Linked DNA regions of Homo sapiens. The protein of the gene in region 3 interacts with the protein of the main gene of each other region in a pairwise test. Each region holds a gene or a part of one and is shown on either strand. Other genes may lie near its edges.

Evidence for each region.
Region 1: the proteins of C1orf50 (region 3) and ADCY4 interact in binary tests that used the Homo sapiens proteins (3 or more experiments, as listed by UniProt).
Region 2: the proteins of C1orf50 (region 3) and EPM2AIP1 interact in binary tests that used the Homo sapiens proteins (3 or more experiments, as listed by UniProt).

Annotation. Positions count from the first base shown.
Region 1 is NC_000014.9:24,325,064-24,334,601, reverse strand, and holds part of ADCY4 (adenylate cyclase type 4), read left to right. Parts: coding exon 1-108; intron 109-1,613; coding exon 1,614-1,811; intron 1,812-1,918; coding exon 1,919-2,080; intron 2,081-2,664; coding exon 2,665-2,814; intron 2,815-3,245; coding exon 3,246-3,394; intron 3,395-3,472; coding exon 3,473-3,584; intron 3,585-4,306; coding exon 4,307-4,434; intron 4,435-4,583; coding exon 4,584-4,742; intron 4,743-5,068; coding exon 5,069-5,201; intron 5,202-5,367; coding exon 5,368-5,541; intron 5,542-8,259; coding exon 8,260-8,303; intron 8,304-8,436; coding exon 8,437-8,523; intron 8,524-8,714; coding exon 8,715-8,784; intron 8,785-9,127; coding exon 9,128-9,225; intron 9,226-9,538. UniProt on the Homo sapiens protein: Catalyzes the formation of the signaling molecule cAMP in response to G-protein signaling.
Region 2 is NC_000003.12:36,982,585-36,991,851, forward strand, and holds the end of EPM2AIP1 (EPM2A-interacting protein 1), read right to left. Parts: coding exon 8,670-9,267; 3' UTR 2,459-8,669; downstream 1-2,458.
Region 3 is NC_000001.11:42,762,683-42,774,305, reverse strand, and holds the start of C1orf50 (uncharacterized protein C1orf50), read right to left. Parts: upstream 7,058-11,623; 5' UTR 6,995-7,057; coding exon 6,916-6,994; intron 6,798-6,915; coding exon 6,682-6,797; intron 744-6,681; coding exon 657-743; intron 1-656. Other genes in the region: P3H1 (prolyl 3-hydroxylase 1 isoform 3 precursor), read left to right, coding at 7,335-7,799.

The DNA.
Region 1 (9,538 bases), on a different chromosome or scaffold from region 3:
GAGACCTACTACAGCCTGAGCCAGCAGTACCCGCTGCTGCTGCTGCTGCTGGGGATCGTGCTCTGTGCGCTCGCGGCGCTGCTCGCAGTGGCCTGGGCCAGCGGCAGGGTGAGCCGAGCCTCTGCTGCGGGAGGGTCTCTACCTGGGGAGCATTTTCGGGGTTGGGGTTTGTGGGGTCTTCTTTTCGATGTGTTTTCGTTGCTGGGAGCAGAGAAAGAAAGGACCATTGAGCCTGGCTAGGAACTGCAGTGACCCTGGGCAAGTCACTCTACCCTTCTGGGTCTGCTCAGGGAGAAAGCTGAGTCCTGGATGCTTCTCGTTTCTGTCCGGGTTCTGACAGACTTTATGAACATCCGTGGTCTACGGGTTCTACAATAAATCCATCACCGGATTTTCCAGTTTTCCAAAGGGGAAATTCTAGGAGGCCCCTGGGGAATTCATTTCCTGCCTTTCTCTCCCTCTTAGGGGATGTAGAGCAGTTGTACCCACAGACTCCCAGAAGGCACCCTCCACCGGGCTCTCACTGAGTCCCAAAGTAAACCCATGTCCAGTTTCTGTTTGGGGAGGAAGAAGGTCTTCAATCCAATTCTAGAAATGGCCTGCCCCTGGTTTTCTTTTCACTGCTTGGAGGCAAGGTGGGAAAATCACCGGGCGCGGCCAATCCTTGCTGGTCCACGCCTAAATCCGGGAAGAGGTGGGGACAAAATGCTGGGACGGCTGTGCAGCTTCTGCTTGGAGTTGAGGCAGGTGGCGAGATCGCAGCCCTGGTGGCCAGGGAGGTGCGGGACGCCGCGGGTCCTGGCGCCCCCTGCTGCTCGAGCGCTGCCTCGCGCCGCCCTTCAAGCTGCCGGCCGCGGTCCCCGGCTCCGGGAATCTCCCGAGCAAATTGGCCAGATTTGGAGACATTCATTCCGAAGTGCCTCCTTGTGAGCTTGGATCTATCTTTCACTTGCTTCATGACGCTTTGGTTCCCGTTTGACAGATAAGAAAACTGAGGCTCAGAAACAAATAGGGGATGGGAGCCAGATCTTCTGGGTAGCTGTCCCAGCAAGATAATAGGTTGGACAACAGGAGGCTGGGCGCTGTGGCTCACGCCTGTAATCCCAGCACTTTGGGAGGCCAAGGCGGGAGATCGTTTGAGCCCAGGAGCTCGAGACCAGCCTGGGCAACTTGGCGAGACCCTGTCTTCTACTAAAAATACAAAAAAAAAAAAATTAGCTGGGCGTGGTGGCGGGAGCCTGTAATCCCAGCTACTCGGGAGGCTGAGGCATGAGAATCACTTGAACCCGGGAGGCAGAGGTTGCAGTAAGCCGAGATCGCGCCACTGAACTCCAGCCTGGGCGACAGAGCAAGACTCTGTCTCAAAAAACAAACCAACCAACCAACAAAAACCATACGAGACTGCTGAGTCTAGATAAAAGCAGTAGGACACAAGCAATTTCAAATGGTTCAACCTAAAGTGAATGGCAAGCGGAGGTGCCTTGCCTCCTTTTCGTACTTAGGCTTGAGACACCTTTCAGAACTGGGCTGAGGGGCTGGGCTGCTGGCTTTTCCTTTATCAGGTTCGTTCCTTCTCCCTGTCACAATCTTGCCTCACACACCCCTGCCCACAGGAGCTGACCTCAGACCCGAGCTTCCTGACCACTGTGCTGTGCGCGCTGGGCGGCTTCTCGCTGCTGCTGGGCCTCGCTTCCCGGGAGCAGCGACTGCAGCGCTGGACGCGTCCCCTGTCCGGCTTGGTATGGGTCGCGCTGCTAGCGCTAGGCCACGCCTTCCTGTTCACCGGGGGCGTGGTGAGCGCCTGGGACCAGGTGAGAGGGGCGGCAGGCGGGGCAGCGGGGACGGCCCGGGCTTCGATCCCTCACCAGGCCTTGAATAGCCCCACTTGGGCCTTCGGCTTCCCGCGCCCCGCCCCCAGGTGTCCTATTTTCTCTTCGTCATCTTCACGGCGTATGCCATGCTGCCCTTGGGCATGCGGGACGCCGCCGTCGCGGGCCTCGCCTCCTCACTCTCGCATCTGCTGGTCCTCGGGCTGTATCTTGGGCCACAGCCGGACTCACGGCCTGCACTGCTGCCGCAGGTGAGCACGCAAGTAGCACAGGCTGCGCTCAGGACGGCTCTGCCACGTGCTAGTAGGCTCCTTTTAGGGGGTTGTTGAGCTGTGACTCCAAGTCAAGGTGCAACGCTGGGCGCAGGATACCCAACCGTGCTTTCGCAGAGCTGGTACAACAGTGTGATGCAATGCCTGCTGTTACCAGAAGAGGGATCCAGGCCACACGGAAGGGAGTCGTGTCGTGGTTTACCCCGGGGACAACAGATGTGGTTAATGAAACCTTGACAGAGAATGAAAAAAAAAAAAAAAAAGTTTTGTGCGATGGGAGTGGGTAGCGACAGTGGAGTGGTATTCCAAGCACAAGAAACCTACCTGCAAACGTTTCCAGACCTAAGAGGTCGTGTTGGTGAAGCAGCCGAGAGTCTGGAGGAGGGAGCATCTGGGAAGGGAAACGTCCCTAGGGATGCCACAGTGTGGCACCACTTGTCCCACAATAGTTAGGTCCCTCACTGTAAAGCCCAGTCTTCCCCAGCCAGTCTTTGAGACCAACTCCAACTACACACGACAAGCACCCGGGTCCCGCGCCCTCTGAGGCTGGCCTTCACCCACAGTTGGCAGCAAACGCAGTGCTGTTCCTGTGCGGGAACGTGGCAGGAGTGTACCACAAGGCGCTGATGGAGCGCGCCCTGCGGGCCACGTTCCGGGAGGCACTCAGCTCCCTGCACTCACGCCGGCGGCTGGACACCGAGAAGAAGCACCAGGTCAGCCGGGCCTAGGAAGGTCAGAGCAGCGCTCCGAGGGAGGAGTTGCTTAGATTACATAACGGGGCTCCTCCACAAGTTGAGTGACTCTGGGCAGGTTTCTTGACCTGTTTCCTCTTTTGTATAAAATGTGGGTATTGCCCATCTTAGAAGGTTGTGAGGCTCAAACAAACCAAAGCTTATAAAAAGCACTTTAGAGCATTATGATATTAAGTGAACTCCCATTCAGGTGTTGATACTGGGAGTTTAGTCACTAAAGGTGATCAGTGTAGGATGGAGTGCTGGGGCCCTGCTGTGTGCAGCGGGAGGACCTGGGGGAGCACCCTGGGGAGCACCTAGGATGGGCAGTGTGGGCTCCTGAGTGATTTGGGGGACAGGGCCTCCTGGCTTTAGGGTGCAGAAGAGTTGGTGTTCATGGTGACCTCTTCCAGGAACACCTTCTCTTGTCCATCCTTCCTGCCTACCTGGCCCGAGAGATGAAGGCAGAGATCATGGCACGGCTGCAGGCAGGACAGGGGTCACGGCCAGAGAGCACTAACAATTTCCACAGCCTCTATGTCAAGAGGCACCAGGGAGTCAGGTATGAGGAAGAATGGCTGGAGGGGAGGGGCCTGTGGGCTAAGACCCTGGCCCTGCTGACACAGTCTGCCCTATGCAGCGTGCTGTATGCTGACATCGTGGGCTTCACGCGGCTGGCCAGCGAGTGTTCCCCTAAGGAGCTGGTGCTCATGCTCAATGAGCTCTTTGGCAAGTTCGACCAGATTGCCAAGGTCAGAGAAGACTTCCCTCCCCACCCAGGGACCCTCAAACATCCCATCCTGGGTAGCCCCTTCCAAGGGAAACTCCCACCTTATAAGATCCCAGGCCCACTTCAGTGCATGCAGGCCCCCAGATATTCCAGTGGAAGGAGGAAACCCTCTCAAACATTCCCAGTCATGAAGCTGCTCACCACACACCTCAAACCTACAGAGATCCCTCAATATCGCCACAGATGTCCCAAGTACAATGCCCCAAACATGCTCAGAGCCCCCACATATGTGTCTCTGGACACTACAACCAAATCTATAGAGACGTTCTGATATTCTAACCTTAGGAGGCCCTTCCAAGAGAAATTTCTGCCCTATGCAACCTCAGCCCAGCAACCTGCTTAGACTCCAGGGATGCCTCCAAGCAACCAATTCTTGGATTCCCCCCAACCTCTCAATCCTGAGACCACTACCACGTACTCAACTCTGGGTACCCCCTTCAACATGCCAAAAGTGGAAAGAGCCACAGCCATCCAGCCCTTGGGGAAACTCTTCTGAGAAAGAGATCTGTATGAAAGACAGTTAGCCCCATATCAAGTGAAAGGAGTCCCTAGATCTGATCTAGACACTACCCCACCTTGGAAGTTCTTCAGGAATACCCCGCTCGCTGCCCACTTTTCCCAACTCCCTCCTACCCTTCTGACCTCTAACCAGGTTCCTCTGCACACCCACATACACACTCCCAGGAGCATGAATGCATGCGGATCAAGATCCTGGGGGACTGTTACTACTGTGTCTCTGGGCTGCCACTCTCACTGCCAGACCATGCCATCAACTGCGTGCGCATGGGCCTGGACATGTGCCGGGCCATCAGGTCAGCTCAGGCGGTGGTCAAGAGGAATGCTGAGGGTGGATGTGGGGGGCAGCAGGCAGCTGACAGAAGTCCTCTTTGTGAGAATCTGGGGTGTCTCACAGGCAGGGCTGAGGGTAGGACTCAGATTGTCCCACACACACACTGCTCAGGAAACTGCGGGCAGCCACTGGCGTGGACATCAACATGCGTGTGGGCGTGCACTCAGGCAGCGTACTGTGTGGAGTCATCGGGCTGCAGAAGTGGCAGTACGACGTTTGGTCACATGATGTCACACTGGCTAACCACATGGAGGCAGGCGGTGTACCAGGGTGAGACCTAGGGCCCTAGGCAGCTACAGCAGAAGGCCAACCAGGCCTACCACAGGCTGCCATCCTTTCATTAGTTCCTTAAGATAAGCACAAGATGAGTACCTTAAGATAAGTCCCATATGGGGCTTGGGAGATCCTAGGGTGCAGGGAGGGGAGCTGGGAGGCACCTCCTGTAACACAGGCTCTTTCTTGAAGTCAGACATCCAGGAACGATCTTTAAAAGACATGAGATGTTTGTCAGTTCTAGGAGCCATGGGGGTGATGGGGCAGGAAATAGGAGATTTGAAGGCCCTCCCTGCTGACCCCTACTGCCTCCCTCCTTCCAGGCGAGTGCACATCACAGGGGCTACCCTGGCCCTGCTGGCAGGGGCTTATGCTGTGGAGGACGCAGGCATGGAGCATCGGGACCCCTACCTTCGGGAGCTAGGGGAGCCTACCTATCTGGTCATCGATCCACGGGTAAAAGCCCAGCCCAGACCCCATGGGCTGGCCTACACAAACCACCCCACAGCCAACAGGCCTGATCTCTTCTGTGCCAGAGATTGAGTTCCTGGGTCCTAGTGGGGGGTGGAGGGAGAAGGAGGAAGTGTCTGTGGTCTTTACTGTCAGCCCTTATGTGCCCCAGGCAGAGGAGGAGGATGAGAAGGGCACTGCAGGAGGCTTGCTGTCCTCGCTTGAGGGCCTCAAGATGCGTCCATCACTGCTGATGACCCGTTACCTGGAGTCCTGGGGCGCAGCCAAGCCTTTTGCCCACCTGAGCCACGGAGACAGCCCTGTGTCCACCTCCACCCCTCTCCCGGTATGTGCACCTTCATCCTGAGCCCCAGAGCTTAGTTAAATCCACCCCCAGTATCCTCAGGCCCCACTGGCAGCCTTCCCTGCCCCCACCACCAGTGAGCCACTTAATGATTTGTGACATCCCAAAGTCCCGAACTGTCTTGTCACCCCAGTCACTGGTTCAGGCCCTTCCTTGCCCCTCCTTCTAGAGAAAGAGCCCTCCAGCTCACCTCAGAGAAGATACAAGATCCCTACAGACACCATTGTAGGGACCAGCCCCACAGGGTCGGTGGGTCTCTCCCTGTGTGCGACGACGAGAGAGTGTAGAAATAAAGACACAAGACAAAGAGATAAGAGAAAAGGCAGCTGGGCCCGGGGGACCACTACCACCAATGCGCGGAGACCGGTAGTGGCCCCGAATGTCGGGCTGCGCTGTTATTTATTGGATACAAGGCAGAAGGGGCAAGGTAAAGAATGTGAGTCACCTCCAATGATAGGTAAGGTCATGTGGGTCACATATCCACTGGACAGGGGGCCCTTCCCTGCCTGGCAGCCGAGGCAGAGAGGGAGAGGAGACAAAGAGAAAGACAGCTTACACCATTATTTCTGCATATCAGGGACTATTAGTATTTTCACTAATTTACTACTGCTATCTGGAAGGCAGAGCCAGGTGTACAGGATGGAACATGAAGGTGGACTAGGAGCGTGACCACTGAAGCACAGCATCACAGGGAGACGGTTAGGCCTCCGGATAACTGTGGGTGAGCCTGACTGATGTCAGGGCCTCCACAAGAGGTGGAGGAGCAGAGTCTTCTCTAAACTCCCCCAGGGAAAGGGAGACCCCCCCCCCCACCCCGCTTTCCCGGTCTGCTAAGTAGCTGGTGTTGTTTCTTGACACCTTTTGCTACCGCTGGACCATGATCCGCTTGGTGACGGGCGTCTTCCCAGATGCTGGCGTCACCGCTAGACCAAGGAGCCCTCTGGTGGCCCTGTCCAGGCATAACAGAAGGCTCGCACTCCTGTCTTCTGGTCACTTCTCACTATGTCCCCTCAGCTCCTATCTCTGTATGGCCTGGTTTTTCCTAGGCTATGATTATTGAGTGAGGATTATCATAATATTGGAATAAAAAGTAATTGCTACCCACTAATGATTAATGATACTCATATATAATCATATCTAAGATCTATATCTGGTATAACAATTCTTGTTTTATATTTTATTATACTGGAACTGCTCGTGTCCTCTGTCTCTTGCCTCGGTGCCTGGGTGGCTTGCCACCCACACACCATGTCCATAACTCCCCAGCCTCTACTCAGGAGAGTGCCTTCCCCTGACACCACAAAGGCAGTTGGACCCCCCACTTCCTCCTGTCTCTGATTCTAGGGCTGTGCACCCATAGCACCAGGAAATGTCTCTGTTTAACTCAATTCCTGAAACTGCATGCTCTCTTCTTCAACCCCCCAACACTGGGGAGTGGGGGAAGGACACTGGCAGCAGTGGTTGCAGGAAGTACTTAATTCCAAGTGTTAACATGAGGTAGGGGAGAGGTCAGAGGGTTAAGCTGGCAGGAGGAAGAGGAAGGAAGAAGCTGAGGTTCAGCTGACTGTTGCAGGATGAGACCTCCAGCATGGGTGGAGTGGTGTGTGGGGACTGCTACAAGCCCAGGGACTGTGAGATGGTGTTAGGTACAATTACATAGCAGGAATGCCTGCCGGGGCCCATGCTAGACCTCCTGCCGCTTTCCACTGGTGTGCAGGCTAGGGAGTATTAGGGTGGAAGAGCAGGACCCTTTGTTCAAGGGTGTCTCCTGAGGCAGGACCTTCACTAGCACAGAAATCCACTTAGCCCCTGAAGTTCCAGGGGCTCAGTCAAATATTAGAAATCTTGCCAGGCACGGTGGCTCACACCTGTAATCCCAGTACTTTGGGAGGATGAGGCAGATGGATAGCTTGAGGTCAGTAGTTTGAGACCAGCCCGGCCAACATGGCGAAACCCCATCTCTACTAAAAATACAAAAATCAGCCAGGCGTGGTGGTGCGTGCCTGCAATCCCAGCTACTCAGGAGGCTGAGGCAAGAGAATTGCTTGAACCTGGAAGGCGGAGGTTGCAGTGAGCTGAGATTGCACCAATGCACTCCAGCCTGGGCAACAAGAGCGAAACTCCGTTGCAAAAAAAAAAAAAAAAATCCAGCCAGGTACGGTGGCTCATGCCTATAATCCCAGCACTTTGAGAAGCCGAGGCAGGCGGATCACCTAAGGTCAGCAGTTTGAGACCAGCCTGACCAACATGGTGAAACCCCATCTCTACTAAAAATGCAAAAATTAGCTGGGCGTGGTGGCACATGCCTGTAATCCCAGCCACCTGGAAGGCTGAGGCAGGAAAATCGGTTGAACCTGGGAGGTGGAAGTTGTGGTGAGCCGAGATCATGCCATTGCACTCCAGCCTGGTGACAGAGCAAGATTCAGTCACACACACACACACACACACACACACACACACACACACACACAAAGATCCTGGGAGTCTAGAGAGTCAGGGGGAAACTTTAAGGAGATTCAAACCTCCCCTTCAAGGGCAGGTGGGATTTGGGAGACAGAGAGGTCATTAGAGGCAAAAGAAAGAGCCCAGTGAAATGCCCAAGGTCAAAGACATGTATAGAGCATGCAGTGTGGCTCATGGTCTACCTCACTGCAGGGAAAACACCCACCATGCCCACCTCCCCCTGTGCTCTCCCAACAGGAGAAGACCCTGGCTTCCTTCAGCACCCAGTGGAGCCTGGATCGGTGAGGAGGCCTCAAAGTCTTTGCCAGTGGGGCTGTCTGGATGACCCCCTCCATCCTCCCTGGGGGTCTGCTCCTGCTTTGCCCAGACGCTCTGAGGGTCTCTGTGGTGATGGACTTGGCTCTCACTGTGCAGGAGCCGTACCCCCCGGGGACTAGATGATGAACTGGACACCGGGGATGCCAAGTTCTTCCAGGTCATTGAGCAGCTCAACTCGCAGAAGTACGGAGAACAAAGAGGGCTGGGGGGGCCGCAGGCCCTGAGGTCATATGGTGGAGAAGGGATGGTGCTCCCTGAGGGGCTGGAGGGAAGACTCGCCTGACCACCCCCTCTTGCCCTCACTCTGCCCTCTTCCTGCCCTTCTGTGCCCTCTGTTCTCTGGTGCTTTCACCCACCCTCCCACCTCCCACCAGACAGTGGAAGCAGTCGAAGGACTTCAACCCACTGACACTGTACTTCAGAGAGAAGGAGATGGAGAAAGAGGTGGGCTGTGGTGTGGGTGGCACCAAACAACTTCCCAACTTTAGTTCCTTGGTGCTGGGGAGGGGTCAGCCCTTGGGTCTCCTCCCCAAGTCTGCTCAGTTTGTGATCCTAGGGGTGAGGAGCTTGTGCCTCTCTCTAAAGGAAAGTCACTCTGTAGACTGAGCTACTAGATGGTAGGGGGAGGAAGGAGGGTAACTCCTTGGAGAACTGGTAGGGTCTACATGGAACTGAACTGGAGCCTGGGCGGTGAGGCTGAGGAGCCCACCCCTTGCCTGGGAGTGATGCCTTCAAGGTGATGGGTAGCACTGGACCCTGTCTCCACCTCTGGCCCTCTCACTTTCAGTACCGACTCTCTGCAATCCCCGCCTTCAAATACTATGAAGCCTGCACCTTCCTGGTTTTTCTCTCCAACTTCATCATCCAGATGCTAGTGACAAACAGGTGAGAGTGCCCCAGGCAAAGGAGGCCCTGGCTGTCATAAGCGGATCACCTTGCCCTCATGACCCCGGGCCACACTTTCTTCCTTCACCCCTTCCCCTTAGCTTCAGGCACTTACCCACAGAGGAAACATGTGTTCTGGGGAAAATGATAATCACGGCCCTTATCTTAACCTTGTAGATCCTGTGGACTTTCTACACAGCCCTAGCATTTTCCCATGAGCATCTCTTTTGATTCTAACAACATCCCCATGAAGGCCAGTTTGTTTCCATTGAGAAACCCAAATCTGGCAGCAAATGCATGAGCTTAGAAAGTA
Region 2 (9,267 bases), on a different chromosome or scaffold from region 3:
ATACTCAGTTCCACAAATTCTGACTCAGAGGGTTCAGTGAGAACTCCAATAATTGGGAGGCAATAAACTCACTGGATAGCTTTGAGTAAGACGACTTTTGGTGTGCCTGTCAGTTCATATCCTCCTATAAAGTCTCTAACCTCAACCCATCCCAACCACAGGCCTGGGGGCCTGTAGCTATGTATTATGGATCCTTTTAGGAAAAAGTATCTTGCTAGTCACAACTATGTTCTCCCTTGAAGAAAAATGAGCAGGTGAAGCTGCTGTTCAGACAGAATGAAGCGGATGTGCAAAGGGACCACAGACAACCATCACGGTAGGAAATACCGCTTGCTTTACTGCTGAATCTCCAGTGCCTAGATCAGTGCCTGGCCCTAGCAGGTTTTCATCAAATAATTATTGAAGGACCACTGAATTTCATTCCCTCATGTGGTTTCCATGAGATACTTCTGTATTTCTCTAATCATTCAATTATTCCTCCCCCTTAAGCTAGCACAAGTTTCTTTCTTACAACCAGAAAGCCCTTCCAAATACATTATGATATTCTCCCCTTCATAGCCACCACTTACTTCACTACAGGTATATGTCAGACCTCAGGAAAGACACCACCGAAGACTGGATCACATGTCCCCACTCAGGAATACAGAATTGGCACATGAGATTAGGTCAGTTGGTCAGCAGCACTAAAGGTGGTGATAGACACCAATGCAGCGCATAAAGGCTGGCCGGCAGGCGAAGTGATAAGAAAGCAGACACAAACAGGAAAGTAGACAATGGTGGTTCTGAGACATCCCTATATTTTCCTGCTATGGACTGAATGTTTGTGTCTCCCACACCCCCATTCATATGTTGAAATGCTAACATCCAACAGTATTTCGAGGTGGGGCCTTTGAGAGGCAACTAGTTCATAAATGTGGAGCCCTCATGATGGGATTAGCGCTCTTGATTGTGATGGTTTCACACATTTATGTCAAAACCAATCAAATTTTCTACTTTAAATACGTGCAGTTTCTTGTACTTCAATTGTATATGAAAGTTGTAAAAAATGTGGAGAGTTCAGTTATTAACTGATTTCAGTTAGAACAACCAATAATGTACCAATAATGGTACAACATTTAAGGAGGTCCCTTATGACTGTGCTATTTTGGACTTAATATCAGTACTTACTGATTTATTCCACTGCTTTCCCAACTCCCTTCACCCTCTGCTCCCATAAAAGTGAACAATTATGAATGTCATAACCAAATTGGTAAATTCGGGCCGGGCATGGTGGCTCATGCCTGGAATCCCAGCACTTTGGGAGGCCAAGGCGGGTAGATCACTTGAGATCAGGAGTTCAAGACCAGCCTGGCCAACATGGTGAAACTCCGTCTCTACTAAAAATACAAAAAATCAGTCAGGCGTGGTGGTGCTCGTCTGTAGTCCCAGCTACTTGGGAGGCTGAAGTAGAAGATGAACGCAGGAGGCAGAGGTTTCAGTGAGTCGAGATCTCGCCACTGAACTCCAGCCTGGGTGACAGAGCGAGACTCAAAAAAAACAAACAAAAATTGGTAAACTCTAATTTAGAATTAGTAGAATTAGGAGGTAAGATCTTACACATTCCTCAAATTTGTCAAGATTTTGCATTTTAATTTCTAAATCCCTTCCAGGAGTTAAACATCAGTATAAATTGGGGTAACTGATTTAACATAAACCAGTGTTATAGCTTATGTCAAAACTATCTACTTAGATTACAATCTCTTTTAAGGACAAGGCCACATCATTAATTTTGATTCCCAAGTTTACAAGCACTATGTCTAGTACAGAGGAGAGTGAGAAGGAACAGGGAAAGGGATAAAGGGTATGAGGTAAGATGGTAGGAAGAAAAAGGGTATGTGTGCAGAGTATGTGTGGGTGCAGAGTATGCAGGGTCTCGTAGGCCATGATAGACATTGGACTTTAGTCTGATTGTGATACAAAGCCATTGGTGATTTTGAGCAGACAAGTGGTATGGTCTGATTTATATGAATATACACACATACACACATATTTTGTTTTGCTTGAGACGGAGCCTTGCTCTGTCGCCCAGGCTGGAGTGCAGTGGCATGATCTCAGCCACTGCAACCTCTGCCTCCTGGGTTGGAGCGATTCTCCTGTCTCAGCCTCCTGAGTAGCTGGGATTACAGGCATGCACCACCACACCTGGCTAATTTTTGTATTTTTAGTAGAGATGGGGTTTCACCATATTGGCCAGGTTGGTCTCAAACTCCTGACCTTAGGTGATGCACCTGCTTCGGCTTCCCAAAGTGCTGGGATTACAGGTGTGAGCCACCGCGCCTGGCCTAATTTATATTTTAAAATAAGGATCACTCTGAATGCTATGTAGAGAATAAACTATATGAGGAAAATATAGAAGCAGGGTACATACCAAAGAGTATGCCAAGAATGGGTGCACATGCTCACTGAAAGACAGATGTGATCATTTTCATAGTAACTTTATTCATAATGACCACAAGCTGGAAACAACCTAAATTTCTATCAACGGTAGAATGGGTAAGTTGTGATGTAGTCACACAATGGAATACTACACAGAAGTAAAACATGAACTGCTACTACATATAACATGGATTACTCTCACAGATACAATGTTGAACAAGACACGGAAGAGTGCATATAATTATTTCACTTACATAAAGTTTTAAAACAGGCAAAACTAATCCGTGGTGATAAAAGGGGTTGGTGGGGGCCTGGGGAACATAAGGACACCTACTGAAGTGCTAGAAATATTCTATATTTTGACCTGGGTGGTGCATTCAAGGGCATATATAAAAACCCACTGAGGTGTACACTTAATATCGGTACACTTTTAAATTTTACCTCAGTAACAAGTTGAAAATATATTGGAAGAAAGCATATAAATGAAGATGTTAATCAGTGGTGTTGTCTTCCAAATATTTCTGGTTTTTCTCCCAGGTATATGCAAGGATCACACTCCTCCTAGAACTTTAATGTGGCTATGTGATTTGCTTTGGCCAATGAAAGTCCTTTAAGAGTCCTTAAGTGATTTGCCATACTCTTTTTTCATTTCCCAAAGTTAGCACCCACACTCCTGATGGTATCTGCTTTGTCAGCCTGAGACCCAGAATGAAGGCAACTTAGAGCACAAATTGGTGAACTTTCTCTGTAAAGGGCCACAGAATAAGTATTTTAGGTTTTGTGAGATGTACACACTCTGTAGCAACTACTCAGCTGTGCCATTGTAGAACCAAAGTAGCCACAGATAATAAATAAATGGACAAGGCTATATTCCAGTAAAACTTTATTTAGATAAATAAGGAGCTAGACAGATTTTGCCCATGGACCATAGTTTGATCATGGCCAACCTATGATCTAAACCAAAGTCCCTAGGCAAGTTGCAATAGAAAAGTTGTGTGAGACAGTGAGATTTTGCCTTTGTTATTCAATGGCAAGCTAGCCCATGCTGACACAGAAATTGGTCCCTTGTTTTTTAAAATGCTAAAATACTGAACACTGGCTTAATGGTTAGCTGGCAGGCATTCAGGAAATTGCTATCAGAAGATGGAAGAAATAACTTACACAAGGGTAATTTATATTATGGAAAGGTGAAACTGCCCCTTGAGATAACCTGAAAGGCAGATCATCTACCCTTTACTAAAGAAAAAGACAGAAAAACAAAATATTTTGTAGTTGCTGTTCACTGCACTTGACAAAACGTACAGAAGAGATGAACTCAGAAAAGACTGGTCAGTTTGCAGGCAAAAATGAAAAGGAAGAGAATTCAAATTCAAGTACTTACTGGGTAGGATGAGGCAACATTTTAATATCAAAAAGAAAGATAAAAATGGGAAATCCTTTTACAAATAAATAAAAAGAGAAATCCTTTAGCCAAAAGGTTGATTAAAAGCCAGTTTTGCCGCCGGGTGCAGAGGCTCACACGTATAACACCAACATTTTGGGAGCCCGAGGCGGGCGGACTGCTTGAGTCCAGGAATTCGAGACTAGCCTGGGGAATACAGCAAGACCCTGTCTCCACATAAAAATACAAAAATTAGCTGGGTGTACTCGTGTATACCTGTATTCCCAGCTACTTAGGAGGCTGCAGTGGGAGAATTGCTTGAGCCAGGAAGGCAGAGATTGCATTGAGCTGAGATTGTACCTCTGCACTCCAGCCTGGGTGACAAAGTGAGACCCCGCCTCAAAAAAAAAAAAAAAAAAAAAAGCCAGTTTTGCAGCAAGCACCAAATCACTGGATGACTATGACACCTACTGTTAAGATCTCTGAATGACTTAATATGCCTCAGACTAAAACTCCAACTAAGATTATACTAGTTAATCCCATAAATTGGTCAAAATGGCTTAAGGAAACAGACTAAGGGTGTGGCTTTCCCACCTAAGCCTGAAAAGCCTCAGTTACCCAGAAATTAAGTTCAGAGAGGCATGGGAACAAGAAGGCAAAGGAATACAGCAAACTTTAGAAGTATACATTAACTAGATGTCACTTTTGGGTCATCTCCCTTTGGGTGATAAGGACATTCTGCAGGTGTAAAAACAAGTGAACTGAATATATAGTGACCAGAAGGGCTGAGTCAGTCTTCTACTTTGTTAAATTTACTTACTTTTAAATCCCAGAAGAGCCAAAAATCATCTGTAAAGGAAAGTAGCAAGTAAATAGCATGCCATTTTCTCCTAGTGTTGATGCCTACAAAAGGAAAAATGATTATTAACTCTTAGGCGGCATTATCTTTTTCCAATACTAAATGTAACATTTAGTAAAAACATATTGTTTTAGTTCACTAAGTAGTTGTCTAATCTTTTCCCTCTATATGTAGGTTCCTTTGGAAATTTAAAAAAAAAAAAAAAATATATATATATATATGACACTGTTTACAAAGGGTAAAAAAAAATAAGATTCTATACATGGATATGCAAACTTAATATTACATAGTGGATTTGGTGTGTATATTTGGTTTTGAATCCTGAGTTTACTACTTACTGTGTTTACCAGGGAAAACCGCAATTTGTTATCCTTCTCTCCTTTCATACAACAGAGAAAACCACAATTTGTTTAACAGTCACATAATACATATTTAAGTCACATGCTAAGCACTACACTAAATTCTGAGAATACAACGAGGTCCCTAGTTACAAAGAACTTGTCTTCATTTTTCAATTAGTAATATGTGGATAAAAGTTACCCAATGGACAGTCTAAGGCAGAATGACTGTGAAGGTCAAATAAGACTGTGAAAGAGCTTCAAAAATTGTAAAACACTACACAAATATTCGTTTGTCCAAACATTTATTGAAATGCCAGGCATTGTGCTAAGCACTAGAGATATAACAGTGAACAAGGCTTATATGGTCCCTGCCCTTACAAAGCTTACAGTCTAGCAGTGATCAATAAGCAGTAACAATAAAGTGTGCCAAGTGTATGTCTGGGAAAGAACAGGGTGTATAGGGAATGGATAGTAAGGGCACCTAATCTAGAGGGCATCAATGAAGGTTTCCTAGATGAAGTGGCATACTGAGACCTTAAAGATGAAGATAAATTTGTATTGTACCCTAAGAGCAATGGTGAAAGCAATGCAGTGACATGATCAGTAAGTCTTTTGGAGCAATTTGGTTGTAGTGTAGAAAGGAATAAAAATAAAAAACAGGGAGACTAATAAGGAGGCTGTTGCTATAATTTAGGTAGGTTGATGGCCTGAATTAAAATGGCAGCATTGGAGAATTGGTAAAAAGGACAAATGAATGGTTGGTAGTGGTAATGCCATTTAGTCAAAGAGGAAACATGAGAGGAGGAGCAGGATTGGGGGCAAGATCAATGACATGTAGTGCCTGAGACAGCAAAGAGCATTTGTTAGCAATTAGATACATCAATTAGGGAAGATCTAGAAAGGAGATATGAATCTGACAGTCATTTGCATATAAATGGTAAGGAAACCATGGAAGGAAATGAGATCAGCTAGCGAGCTGACACAGAACAAGGCAGTCTAAAACAAATTTTTTTAAAAATACGAAGAACAGATATTGAAGGGAAGAGGTGCCTGCAAAGACTAAGAAAGCACACCTGGAGATGGTATCTCCTCAAAGCTAAAGTCATCAAGTGTTCAAGTGTTTCAAGGAGGGTAAGACTATTAACAAGGACTTAGCATAGTAGAGCAATTTGAGTGGCAATACGGGACACTGGGAATACAAATCTGTCAAGAAAACTAGTAGGAATGAGCTATAGGACAGTAACTGGTAAGGACCTAATAATTTTTTTTTTAATGTACGTATTTTAACTATATTCACTGCTACAACAGGACCAGTAACAACTATATTTATTTAAAAAAAAAAAGACTGCCATGCAGTTACAGAATTACTTAATACAGAAAACAGTAAAATACACTTTTTTCTTTTTCTTTTTTTTTTTTTTTTTTTACAAACAAGACTAGCTTATAGCAAATTCTCTATAGCTAAGGGTCAATTTAAAATCCTTGGCTTATATCTCCCCCTCACTCAATGACTACATGATGCAAACTAATTTTATTAACACCTTAAGCAAAACATACTGGAATTTCACAAAATGTACAAGATTTCAATATTTAAGGAACTGGGGTTAGAAAGCAGAAGTGGCTTTCAGGTCTTCCAGTCTTTCTCTCAAGTAATAAAGCTCTGCTGTGAATATTCAAAGCTATTGGGAAATTACCGGTAGATTTTTCTGTTTTTTTTTTTCGGTTTTCCACTATGTTGTTTCTCTAGATATGTAAGCTTACTCTATTAACCAAAATCTCAGCTTGACCATTCTTGATAAGTACCTAATCGACATGTAACTTTTTTTCTGCCTTAAATATGTATAACAGGACAGAGCCCTTAAATCTGATTCAATTATTAATTCCTGATTTACAAGTGCTATGGTGAGCTAACAGAACTTATCAATGCCTTTATTGCACTTTACTAGCCAAATTTAGAAGGTTGGAATTAGTCTCTCCTATCTAGTATTCTGTCAGTTTGCCCAGCTTGTACTTTTAATTTTGCTTCTAATGGTAATCTGCCCTATCCCTTGAAATAAAATAATCTACATTTTGGGAGGGCTAATTCTTCATTGTGCCAGGCTGTCCCATGCACTGCAGGGGTGAGTGTCTTTAGGCTTAAATGCCAACAGAAGCCCCTAGTAAATATGACAACCAAAAAAGTGCCCCTACACATTTCTCAGCATCCTCTGGAATGACAGGTTACTGCCTCTAGTTGAAAGCCACTGGCACAACTTTGGTTTTTAAGCTCTTATGCCATTTATTTTAATTGCCCAGACATCAATTCCACCTAAATTCTTAGTCATAGCCTGGTTCCTTGAATTTGCTGGATTAGTAACCACAGATTAAGGTGTTTCAATAGTTAAGACAGGACTTTGGAACAAGAGTTTTTAAATTGTATAATACTTGAGAGGATCTATGAATATAAATTGGGTCCTGTTTATAATTAGTTTTACATAATGAACTTTAAGATTGCCTTTTCATGGTGAACAGAAGTTTGGAAATTACTGTTTTGGCACAAAGCAGATTATCTTAGTAGAAATACAGAATTACTGCAATCTGTGAATAAGACTGCTTTTAAATATTTCTACTTGTGTGCTATCTTACATATAGAATGTGTACGACAGTTCCAAATTTTAGAATAAATCCATTTCTAGCATCTAACAAAATCTGATACTGTATCATTTTAAAACAAAGTGTTTACTTTAGGCAGGATTTTTTAAAATAAAGCAGCAATACCCACGCAGATAAGACAAAAAAGCTAAAATATCTCACACCTCCTAATCCTGGAGTGCAATCTTTTTTCCTCATCGTTTTTGATAGGGCCAAACTTGTGTCTACAGTAAAAAAAAAAAAAAAAAGAATTACTAACTGGCAACCATTAAGATTCTATACTTACCATAGTCCTTTAATAGGCAAGCTGATAAAATAGCCCCCAGTTATTAAAAAAAAAATCCAAGGAAAACCCCCAATAATTAGTCTTATCTCCAAATTGCATGAAGTCTCCTATATCTGAAACTTAAAAATGATTCTAATGACTTCCTCTATCAGTAATGTGTTATCACTGAGGTGGGTGATGGGGAGGGAAGAGGGAAGAAATCTGTCAGTATTACCTTCGAACTCAGAAATGTTTAAAAAAAAGTCTCAAACATTTTGATGGTTAGACAAAACACCTCCACTGTTATGTATGGGCTTCCTTTTTGGAAACTTATGAACTTGCTATGTGAGCTTCTGCAAATTGGTTCAAAAGCACATTTAAGGAGTTGATAATTTAAGACTATATGAATCAGAATTTTAACACTCCATTAAAATAAGAGCTGAAATTTTTGGCATTTATCTTCAGAACACCTAAAAAACAGACTGCAAATTCAACTCACATTAATACTAAATCTCTTTAAAATTAACTATATCATAAAAGACAATGACTTTGTCACTAAACTAAGTTTTAAAAAAGGTGGCATTCTCATGTTTCAGTCCCATGCTGCCATTTGAGATGAAAAAAAAGGCAACTGTCAGAATTTTAATTGTGATCAGTTTGGACGGCTGGTACTTGGTACTTTCTCACAATCCAAATTAGTAAACTTGAAAACTCAAACCAATTTTTGCTTTTAGAATTAAATTCTTGTTGAGTTTTTCAATCTTGTACTACAAAGCCTTATGGATTAGATTCATTTCTTTCTCTCACAAGGTCATCCCAACCGGGCTCCATTTCAGTTGTGGCAACCCGAAACAGGGCTTGGAGATGCTCATCTGTTAATGGCTGACTCAAAGTGTGTTGGTTTCGAGTCAAATATGAAAAAGCCTTTTCACAGATTTGGTTACTATCAAACAAGGATGCCACCTTACAGGCAACCCCTTTGATAATTGGGTAGGATTCAGCAGACAATCCAGCATAAAACTGCCCCAAGTCTTTGATTCTGTATTCATTCCAAAGATTAGTGTTTGCCTGAAGTTTTGTTAGCTCCACCCTCACTGAAATAGGTGCATATTCAGGTTTAAAGTTAAATGGATTTGAAAAAAGTTCTAAGTCCTTTTTAATGAACCTGAGGTCCTTAAAATGTCTCTCAAATTCTTTTTGGAGACGACAGATCACCATTTGATACCTATCAGGATCAAATATTTTTTCATCTTCCTTATTTTGCTGTTTTAGCTCATCAACAACTTCTCTGAGGGCAGGAAAGTCTGTTAGATTTTTTTCCTCAATATGTCTTTGAAATAAATTCAGCTTAACTTCGAAAGTACAAATATGGTCA
Region 3 (11,623 bases):
CAGTGAGCTGAGACTACACCACTGCAGTCCAGCCTGTGTGATACAGTGATACCCTATCTCAAAAAAAAAGATATTTCAAAATGTTGAGCATTAATGACCCTGGGTAATTTTTAAGCTTCTTTCCTATTTTTCTGTGCTAAGTACATTTCTTTTATAAATGAAAACATAATCCCCTGTTAAATGCTTTACCTCATGAAACCTTCTCCTGGAAAAAACAAAACAAGGGAGGCTGAGGCAGGCAGATCACCTGAGGTCAGGAGTTCAAGACAGGCCTGGCCAACATGGCAAAACCCCATCTCTACTAAAAATACAAAAGTTAGCAGGGTGTGGTGGCGGGCACCTGTAATCCCAGCTACTTGGGAGGCTGAGACAGGAGAATCGCTTGAACCCGGGAGGCAGAGGCTGCAGTGAGCTGAGACCATGCCACTGCACTCCAGCCTGGGCAACAAGAGCAAACCTCTGTCTCAAAAACAAACAAACAGACAAACAAAAACTTATACTTAACCTCTTAAGCTTATTCCTTCTATTTTACTCAACACCTCTACATTTCTAGGAGGTATTAAAGACATAAAAAGTCACAACGATTATAAACAAGTTCAGCCAATCCTGAGAACTAAATAAAGAAAATGAAAGCCTGTCTAACAGTCATTCCTTACCTTCCTGGCTTGTTCTTGCAAATGTTGGATTTGCTCAGCTATGACTGTCAGCTTGTTGGTGGCATTTGCTCGGATGAATTCATCAGCCTACAGGTGAGAAAAAACTAAACTGTGGGTTGAAAGAGGAAAAGACTTCTATGATGTTCTTATCTTGATCCCAGGGTTATGTTAATATTTTGCTTCTGCCTAAAATATTTTTCCCATTCTTGCCACTGCCCCATAGCCTCCCACTCATCCGAGGCCCCACTCAGATAGCACTGTCATGAGAAGGCCACCCTGACATGACTCCACGCCACAGAGTTAAGTGCTCTCTTCTATTTCCCATAGCTTTCCACCCCTTCGCTATGAACTGCAGTTACACTGAACTTCTTTGGTTCTCCAGCATGCCTTCTCTCTTTCTCTCTCCTGCTACCAAATATACTGAATATATCCTCTCCTCCAACCAATCCATTTTTCCTCCTGCTCTTTACCTAACAAACACCACACATTTCTCAGGTCTCCATTTTCTCATGTTTAAACACTTGTGAAATCAGGGATGGATTTTAAATAATTAAAAGACACTTGTGATCTGGCCCTTATCATCTGCTAAGGTAGAAATCTAGATACACATAGAAAGTATTCGGGTTTTTCTGTGTGACCCCCACACCCCCTGAACTGAGAAAGTATGCGTTAATCTGACCATTTCCTCAGTTATTTACATCACAACTACTTAAATGTTAACTTATATGTGCATTTCTAATTATTACTTAAAATGTATTTTAAAAGACTGCATTATGATGTGGACCTGAAACAGAGTTATAATGTACACACAAGACTACCTGTCACGTGCCACAAAGTGCAACTGAAGGCAATGGACATTTTTTTTTTTTCAGACAGTTTTCGTTCTTATTGTCCAGGCTGCAGTGCAATGGCGCAATCTTGGCTCACTGCAACTTCTGCCTCCTGGAGTCAAGTAATTCTCTAATGTCAGCCTCCTGAGTAGCTGGGATTACAGGTGCCCGCCACCATGCCCAGCTAATTTTTGTATTTTTAGTAGAGGCAGGGTTTCACCATGTTGTCCAGGCTGGTCTCGAACTTCTGACCTCAGGTGATCCGCCCACCTCGGCCTCCCAAAGGTCTAAGATGACAGGTGTGAGCCACTGAGCCCAGCCAGGACATTTCTTAAAATAGATCAAATTCTCAAAGCTAGGAGAGACTAATGTGACAAATTCATGTGCTGGGAAGGATTACCACTCAGGCAATAGAATTCTGTCAAAAACTTCCACCTTACTTTTAAGAAAAGCTGATTATACACAATTAAGGTAAAGAAATGAGGAGATTAAACTAGAACCTGAACTAAGAAATATTAAAGAGAATTTGCTGGTTAGTTGAGGAGTCTTAAGGCAAAGTTCAGGTATAAACCAGTGTTATGAGTGAACAGAAACCACACAAGTAAACTGAGTCATTTATCTGTCCCACAGATGTATATTAGGCAGCTACTATGTGTCAGACACCACACTAGGCACTGGGTGTACTGGCAAACAGGAAAGAGAAGTCCCTGCCTTTGTCAAGATCGCAAGTCAAGTCTAATACCGTTCAACAGAAATATGAGGCAAGTTGCATATAAAATTTTAAATTTTCTGGTAGCCACGTTAATAGTAAATTAATTCTAACAATACTTTTTTTTTTTTTTTTTGAGGCAGAGTCTCGCTCTGTCACGGAGGCTGGAATGCAGTGGTGCAGAGGCTCACTGCAACCTCCGCCTCCCGGGTTCAAGCAAATCTCGCACCTCAGCCTCCTGAGTAGCTAGGACCACAGGCATGCGTCACCATGCCCCGCTAATTTTTGTATTTTTAGTAGAGATGGGGTTTTGCCATGTTTGCCAGGCTGGCCTCGAACTCCTGGCCTCAAGTGATACGCCTGCCTCAGCCTCCCAAAGTACTGGGATTACAGGCATGAGCCACCGTGCTCAGCTAATACATTTTACTTAACCTAATATATCAAAAACATTTTCATTTTAACATGTAATCACTATTTGTAAGTTGTTAATGAAATATTTTGCATTTTTTGTTTGTTTTTGTTTCTTTTTTTGGTCCTTCTCAGTCTAATCCATATTTTGCATTTGATATTAAGCCTTCAAAATATAGTGTTTATTTTGTACTCACAGCACATCTCAATTTGGATGCTAAATTTTCATCAGAAATACTTCATCTGTATTTAAACTTAATAAAATTTATATGTGAAAAAGTTGATTCACATACTCAAATTGTTCCAATATACTTGAGTTCCAATAATTGAAGTAATTATCAGGTTTTTTAAATTCAAATTAATTAAAATCAAATAAAATACAAAATTCGGTTCCTCAGCCACACTAACAACGTAACACAAGTGCTTAACAGACATAATGTTGCTAGTGGCTACCTAAAGCACAGCTCCAGTGAGTAATAGATACCAAAAAGTAAAGATGATTAAAGCTAATATTATATGTACTCATAACAATGCACTGTTATGAAGGAAATAACCACAATTATGTCGTAGAAGCAGGTTAAAGATAACAAATGAGTTAAGTAAAAAAGCTACTTCATTTTTATGAAGTTTAATAATAGGGAGTGGTGGGGAATTGGAAAGTATATGTAGCCTAGAGGTATTTGAATTCAATTTAATAATACTGTCATTTGGATGGGGTAGGGTACGGTCTTCTTCAGACAAGAAGGCCTCACCAAGGATATAACATTTGACTTGGGTCTAAATGAAAGGAGAGGACCGACCATGAAAAAAGCTGGAAAAAAAAAAGTTTGCAGGCATTTGAGGCCAGTGCAGCTGAAGAGTAGTTAGTGATGGGCAATGTGTAGAACAGGGTTTAAAAAGAGAGCAGAGACCAGATTGTGCAGTCTTGTAGCCCATGGTAAAAGAATTTGCATTTTGTTCCAAGAATGAAAGCCCAGGTGTGGTGGCTCACACCTGTAATCCCAGCACTTTGGGAGGCCGTAGCGGATGGATCACCTGAGGTCGGGCGTTTGAGACCAGCCTGACCAACATGGAGAAACCCTGTCTCTACTAAAAATACAAAATTAGCCAGGCATGGCGGCACATGTCTATAATCCCAGCTACTTGGGAGGCTGAGGCAGGAGAATTGCTTGAACTCGGTAGGCAGAGGTTGCTGTGAGCCAAGATGGCGCCATTGCACTCCAGCCTGGGCAACAAGAGCGAAACTCCATCTCAAAAAAAAAAAAAAGAAAGAAAGAAAGGAGGAGCCATATATGGCCAAGGAGAGAGTAGGTATTTCTAGAGCTAAGGTAGTTCCAGATTAGGGGTGGCCTTATAATAACCCTCCCTTTTCTTAAGGTGTTAGCAATAAATCTCATAAACAAAATTTGAATTTATATTTTGAAGAGTTAATATAAAATGCAAAATATGGATTAGTCTGAGGTCCAAAAAAAGGAAAAAAGAAACAAACAAAAAAAATGCAAAATATTTCACGAACAACTTAAAAACAAAAGAGCCTCATAAAAAAGAAAGGAAGGGAAGAGTACCTACAACTACTAAGCACTAACCCTGGCCTCAACTACTCTGAGGCCCTTTACATTCATCTCATTTACTTCTCACAACACCTTTATGACGCTGGAGATGATAACCTCACTTTCTCATTTTAGCAATTAAGACTCACAGACATGAGGCAACCTGTCCAAGGTTTCACAGATAATAAACAGCAAAGGATCTGAACACAGGTCAGATTCCAAAATTCATGCCTTAATACCAGGCCTCCTGAGCTTTCTGAACACACACCAATACCTGGGTCAGTCTTGCTAAAAAAGTACTTTTTTTTTTGAGACGGAGTCTTACTTTGTCACCCAGGCTGGAGTGAAGTGGCACAATCTCCACTCACTGCAACATCTGCCTCCCAGGTTCAAGTGATTCTCCGGCCTCAGCCTCATGAGTAGCTGGAATTACGGGCGTCTGCCACCATGCCCGGCTAATTTTTTGTATTTTTAGTAGAGACAGGGTTTCACTATGTTGGCCAGGCTGGTCTTGAATTCCTGATCTCGTGATCCACCCGCCTTGGCCTCCCAAAGTGCTCGGATTACAAGCGTGAGCCACTGCACCCAGCCCACCACCATTTTTTTTTCTTTTTAGACTTGCTCTGTCACCCAGGCTGGAGTGCAGTGGTGTGATCTCAGCTCACTGCAACCTCTGCCTCCCAGGTTCAAGCAGTTCTCCCGCCTCAGCCTCCAGAGTAGCTTCGGACTACAGGCACACACCACCATGCCCGGCTAATTTTTTGTATTTTAGTAGAGACAGGGTTTCACATGTCGCCCAGGTTGGTCTCCAACTCCTGAGCTCAGGCAATCCTCCCGCCTTAGCCTCCCAAAGTGCTAAGATTACAGGCGTGAGCCACCACACCCAGCCTCATTTTTTTGTTTTTTTTTAAGAGTCTCACTCTGTCACCAATTCTGGAGTACAGTGGTGCGATCTCGGCTCACTGCAACCTCTGTCTCCTGGGCTCAAGCGATTCTCATGCCTCAGCCTCCCGAGTAGCTGAGACTACAGGCATGAGTCACCACACCTTTTAGTAGAGACGGGGTTTCACCATGTTGGCCAGACTGGTCTCGAACTCCTGACTTCAAATGATCCACCCACCTTGGCCTCCCAAAGTGCTGGGATTACAAGTGTGAGCCACGGCACCTGGCCAAAAAGTACATTTTAGATAGTTAATATGTTTGATTCAATTTGTTTGTCTCTAAAGTTTTTTTTTTCTTCAGCTTCTCAAATACAGATTGTATTGGGGAAACAGAGGCAGCATAATAATGCATCCTCTGTATTTCATAAGATTATAGGATGAAAGACAAAAACTGTGTTCTTTCTTCCATCTGTTCAGGCCATCGTAATAAACACGATAGTCATTCAATAGCACATGAATACGTTGTGTGCACAAGATTCTGTCCCTGCCAACCTCCCTCCCAATAAGAGTAATCTGATTAACTAGATGCATATTCTCTTAATAAATAAAAGTTGCACTTTGCTCCCCAGCTCTTCAAAAAGAAGAAAGCCAAGTTTTGAATTAAAGGAGCTTTCTGCGTATCTGAATTTTTCTTAATTTTAAAAAAAAAAGGATTCGAAGGATTTCTAGGATCATTGAAAAAAAAAGAGATGTGAGGGAATTTGAGCACATTAAATAATTTTGGGCAAAGCAAAGACCCTGGAACATAATCAAGGCCAAATCTGATAGTGTATACAGGGATAAGGGGCCATGATAATCTTTAAAACAGCAGGACCCTCCATCTGTGGACACTGAAGAGGGTGTACAACTGGAAGTCTTGATAAGAGATAAGAAGGAATCTGGTTTTTCATTGAATAATGACAAAACTTTAGATCTTGGAGCTCTACTACTTCAAACCTTTCACTTCACAGATAAAATAGTTGAGGTCCAGAGAGAAGTAATCTGCCTTAAGTCGCACTGCAAGTTAGTATCAAAAGTGGGATTAATACTCATGTGTCCAAACTTCCAGTGTTTTTTCCATTATTTCACATTTCCTCCTTATTTGACTTATTTTGGCCATCCATATATAAACACTGGGCTTGGGAATACTGTGTTTAATGAGGACTAAACTTGGAGTCCTTGCCCTGCTAGAAGATGTTTAAACTCTCAGGTAACAAAGATCTTATGGGAAGCAGCTTAAAATAAGCGGACCTTGAAACTTCCCGAAGAACTTTTCTTTGTGTCAAATGGGAAGAATAACTCTGTACTGCCTACCTCACAAGGCTGTCCTAAGGTGCAAATGAAATAATGAACACTAAAGTGTTGTGTAAACCTTCCCACGAAGGAAGATTATGGGCACTCAAGTTGCAGTTAGAGGAACCTTTGGTCCCAGAAGGTCATTCGAATCAGGCCACCGACTCACAATGACAGTCGGCTTTACTCGTCTGTAAAATGGAGACAAGAGCAAATGCCACCCCCACCATAGGTGGTAGTGAGGTCTGAGCCGAAAGACGCAGAGTACAACGTGAACGAAGATGGTTATTCGCTGCCCCGGCCGCGCCTCCTCACCTTCTGCACCTGCTCTGCGAGCGCCACGAGGTCTAAGGGGTCCCCGGCCCGGTGGGTGTGGTAGGGGCTCACCAGGGCCAGGCCGCCGGGGGTCGGGGTGAGCTCCACCAGGGCTCCTGCGACACACACCCAGGAACACAAGCCGTGAGCTCCCGCCGTCGGCCTCCCGCGGAGCCCCGAGACCGGCTGCCTCGCGGGAGCTGACTTCCCCCTGCTGACTCCCGCCCCGCATACCTCCCTGGCCTGCAGCTGGCGGCGCTCCTTGCCTTTCAAGGACCCCCTCGGTCCGCCCCGGCGCGGCGGCGTCCTCCATGACAGCGCCTTATCCTCCCCACTCCCTGGGCTGTGCGAGTAGGAAGAGCCTGCGCATAAAGGCGCGTGGGCGGAGCTTCCGTCTTTCTTGTCTACTGGGCGTCAGTTCGACTGAGCAAGGCCTGAGCTCGGAGGCGGGGCTCCGGCTGACGCGCCGGGATTCGCTGAGGGCCGGTGGGGGGATCCGGGCTGACTGAAAGGAAAAGAGGCGGTGCAAGCCTCGTGGGCATGCGCCGCCCGGCTTGGAAGGTGGGGCTTCGCCCGGGGGCGGGCCTTCGCCGGGGGTAGGACTCCGGCCTTGGTGGCGGGTGGCTGGCGGTTCCGTTAGGTCTGAGGGAGCGATGGCGGTACGCGCGTTGAAGCTGCTGACCACACTGCTGGCTGTCGTGGCCGCTGCCTCCCAAGCCGAGGTCGAGTCCGAGGCAGGATGGGGCATGGTGACGCCTGATCTGCTCTTCGCCGAGGGGACCGCAGCCTACGCGCGCGGGGACTGGCCCGGGGTGGTCCTGAGCATGGAACGGGCGCTGCGCTCCCGGGCAGCCCTCCGCGCCCTTCGCCTGCGCTGCCGCACCCAGTGTGCCGCCGACTTCCCGTGGGAGCTGGACCCCGACTGGTCCCCCAGCCCGGCCCAGGCCTCGGGCGCCGCCGCCCTGCGCGACCTGAGCTTCTTCGGGGGCCTTCTGCGTCGCGCTGCCTGCCTGCGCCGCTGCCTCGGGCCGCCGGCCGCCCACTCGCTCAGCGAAGAGATGGAGCTGGAGTTCCGCAAGCGGAGCCCCTACAACTACCTGCAGGTCGCCTACTTCAAGGTGCAGACCTGCCTGGAACCAGGCGGCCGGGGTCCTTCTGGGGAGAGGAGTGTTGCAGGGGACCTGAGGAGCTTGGGGGATCGGGGAAGTGTCCGCAGGGAGGGGAAAGTGGCCTCCTGGCTGGGGAGCTCTCCTCGGAGCCGGGGAGAGCTGCTCCCTGGCAGGAGACCTTCCTCGCCCAGTTCGCATGGGCAGATGCTAACCCCAAAGGTCCAGCCTGGGGTTAGGGCACAGGCCAAGCAAAACTCATGGCCATTTTGTTCCCTGGGAAATCTCCTGGAAGGAATTAAAGCGGCAGTTTGGGTCTCCCATTCTGATGTCATTGTAAGTGTCCGAGTGAGAAGCTAGTAGCGGTCTACAATATCTCCCTTCCGGTTGGTTTTCCAGTGGTGCTTTTCCTGCTGTTTGATTCAGCAGCTCTCTTTCAGGATGTGAGGTTGCCACGTCGCCAGCAGGGGCTGCCTGGCCCTTTCTGTGTGTGTGTGGGGGCGGGGGGGGGACCCTCTGGCTAGTCTGCCAGGTTTACAAAGAAAATGAGTATTTTTCGGAATGCCAGAGTGCCATGTGTCCAAGTGTACACTTGGGCTTGGAGCGTTCCAGGCTTGTTTGGTGGTGGTGATGGTGACGATGATGATGATGATGATAGCCAGCACATACTTCCAGGCACTATTTTAAGCAGTTTGCATTTATTAACGCATTTGCCCTAATCTTCATAATATCTTGTCAGGTAGATGCTGTTATTAGTCCCACTGTATTGGGGGTGGGGGGAGAAAGAGTTGTGCATTATATCTGGTATATCTGTTGTTTAAAAGACCTTCGATTCGATCTAAAGAGACACTTAGAGACTCTTGGGGACCTCAGATTTCCACCCCTCCACAGCATTCTGCCTACACAGTTCCCCTCATTTTTCCTAGTTACTCGGAAGAGCGCTGGACTTGAAATCAAAATAATTGCGTTATGTCTTTGGTTATGTCGCTTCATCATAGCACTTTCTAAAACTATTTGACAAACATGTATTGCATACCTACTGCATTCCAGTTCTTGTACAAGTAATTAAATGCTCGACTAACGTCTTTGCTTTGTCTTGCTTTGCTGTTAAGAGTTACTGTAGTAAGGGCTACTGCAAGGGCATATACTTAGGGCTGCGGGAGCACAAAGGAGGGAGACTCTAGCTTTATCTCAGAGAAATTAGACTTCAAAGAAGAGGTAATATTGAAGCCTGCCCTAAGTATTGCCAGGGGGAGAGGAAAGAAGGCTCCTCCAGATAGAGAGAAAAGTAGAACCAAAGCATGATGTATTCAGGAAAAAAAATGAACTCTTGTGATTGCAATGTCGAGATGTGTGTGGGGAGTAGTAGGAGAGGCGGCTAGAAAAGTCAGTGAGGCCAGATTTGGAAGAGAATTCTGCGGACTGCAGGGAGCCATCCTCAGATTTGGGTTTTAAAACGCTTATTCTGGAAGCCATGGTGAATGAGCCTTGGAAGAAGGAGAAAGTGGTGGCACTTGATTAGGAGGCAGACATTTGTCCACAAGAGAGGAGGTTAAGTACCTCAGTGCTTAGAGAGTAAAGAAGGCTGGGGGTGGAGAGAGGAGTGAGGACATGAGGGAGAACAGAGAAAGGCAGGAGCAGCGCTGAAAGACACAAGAGCTAGAGTAATTCCATGAAAGGGACAGACCTGAAAAAATTTCTAATTTTACAGTTAAAGAAACTGAGGTACAGAGATGGGGAGTTATTTACCTTGGGTCACCTAACCAGGGCTGACTCCTTTAGTGTGCCTTTACTAGTACCAATGATAAGAAAATAAGTTTTCTTAGCATATTAATCATACCACCTAAAATTTATTGAGCACTTAATCTGTGCCCAGCACCATGTATTACAGGCTGCATATTATCTCGTTGAACTCTCAACAATGCTAGGAGATAGCTAGAGAATGCTATCTCCAGATGATAGATTAGGGAAACTGAGTTTAGAAAGTAAACTTTAAGTATCTTGTCTACTGCCCAGCCAGTCAGTGAGTCATTAAGCCCAGATGTGATGCTGGCCTGTCTCTTTTCTTTCTTTCTTTTTTTTTTTTTTTTTTTTTGAGATGGAGTCTCGCTGTTGCCAGGCTGGAGTGCAGTGGCGACCTTGGCTTACTGCAACCTCTGACTTCTGGTTTTCTGGTTCAAGTGACTCCCCTACCTCAGCCTCCCGAGTAGCTGGGATTACAGGCACGTGCCATCACATCCGGCTAATTTTTGTATTTTTAGTAGAGATGGGGTTTCTCCATATTGGCCAGGATGGTCTGGATCTCCTGACCTTGTGATCCACCTGCCTCGGCCTCCCAAAGTGCGGGATTACAGGCGTGAGCCACCGCACCCAGCCCTCTTTTCTTTTGAGACGGAGTTTCGCTCTTGTTGCCCAAGCTAGAGTGCAATGGTGCGATCTCGGCTCACTGCAACCTCCGCCTCCTGGGTTCAAGCGATTCTCCTGCCTCAGCCTCCTGAGTAGCTGGGATTACAGGCACATGCCACCACGCCCAGCTATTGTTGGTCTCAAACTCCTGACCTCATGATCCGCTGGTCTCAAACTCCTGACCTCATGATCCGCCCGCCTCAGCCTCCCAAAGTGCTGGGATTATAGGCGTGAACCCCCGTGCCTGGCCACGGCTGGTCTCTTTGATACCAGTGTCCACATAGTTAATTACTAGATCATCAGTGATTTATTTGGTTGGATTCTATATATGAAACCTGTGTTACTTTGACATGCTGGAGTCCATTGCTGTGGGCATTGTGGTCTGTAGCCTATTTCTCCCCCCTTGGATTTCTTTTTTTTTTTTTTTTTTTTTTTTTTTTGAGACAAGAGTCTCGCTCTGTCACCCAGGCTGGAGTATGGTGCTGTGATCTCGGCTCGCTGTAACCTCCGCCTCCCGGGTTCAAGCGATTCTCCTGCTTCAGCCTCCCAAGAAGCTGGGATTACGGGTGTGCGCCACAACGCCCAGCTAATTTTTGTATTTTTAGTAGAGACGGGGTTTCACCATGTTGGCCAGGCTGGTCTCAAACTCCTGACCTCAAGAGATCTGCCCCCTTCGGCCTCCCAAAGTGCTGGGATTACAGGCATGAGCTACCGCCCCCGACCACCCCCTCAGATTTCTTAGAGCTATTTGTTTGAACCTCATGAGCCCTGAGCTTTGAGTCAGAAAATACTATGTCTGGACTTAGTAAAGGACCTTAGAATTTTTAGCCATCCACCTTTTCCCTAAATGTCTCAAAAATTCTTCATTTTATTTTATGCAAAAAAAAATTTTTTTCTAGGAAAATTCTTAGGCATAGTCTGTTAGCTGCTCTTTTTTCTCTACCCCTAAATCCTTGAAGCCACAGAATTTCTTCAGCTCAGGCATTACATTTGATTCATGAAATATATATATGTATTTTTTTTTTTTTGAGTCAGGGTCCTGCTGTGTCACCCAAGCTGGAGTGCTGTGGCACCATCTTGGCTCACTGCAACCTCTGCTTCCCAGGCCCAAGCGTCCTCCCACCTCAGCCTGCAGAGTAGCTGGGACTACAGGCATATAGTACCATGTAATTTTTGTATTTTTCGTAAAGACAGGGTTTCACCATGTTGCCCAGACTGGTCTTGAACTCCTGAGCTCAAGTGATCCACCTGCCTCGGCCTCTAAAAATGCTGGGATTACAGACCTGAGCCACCGCACCCAGCATGAAAACATATTATGTGGGCAGTCAGTCTTTCACAGCACTCCCCATACAATATGACCTTTGTTTTAAAATGGAACATTGCTACTTCCTGTAATCTGGGGAACCCCTAAATCTGACTTGGGAAAGAGC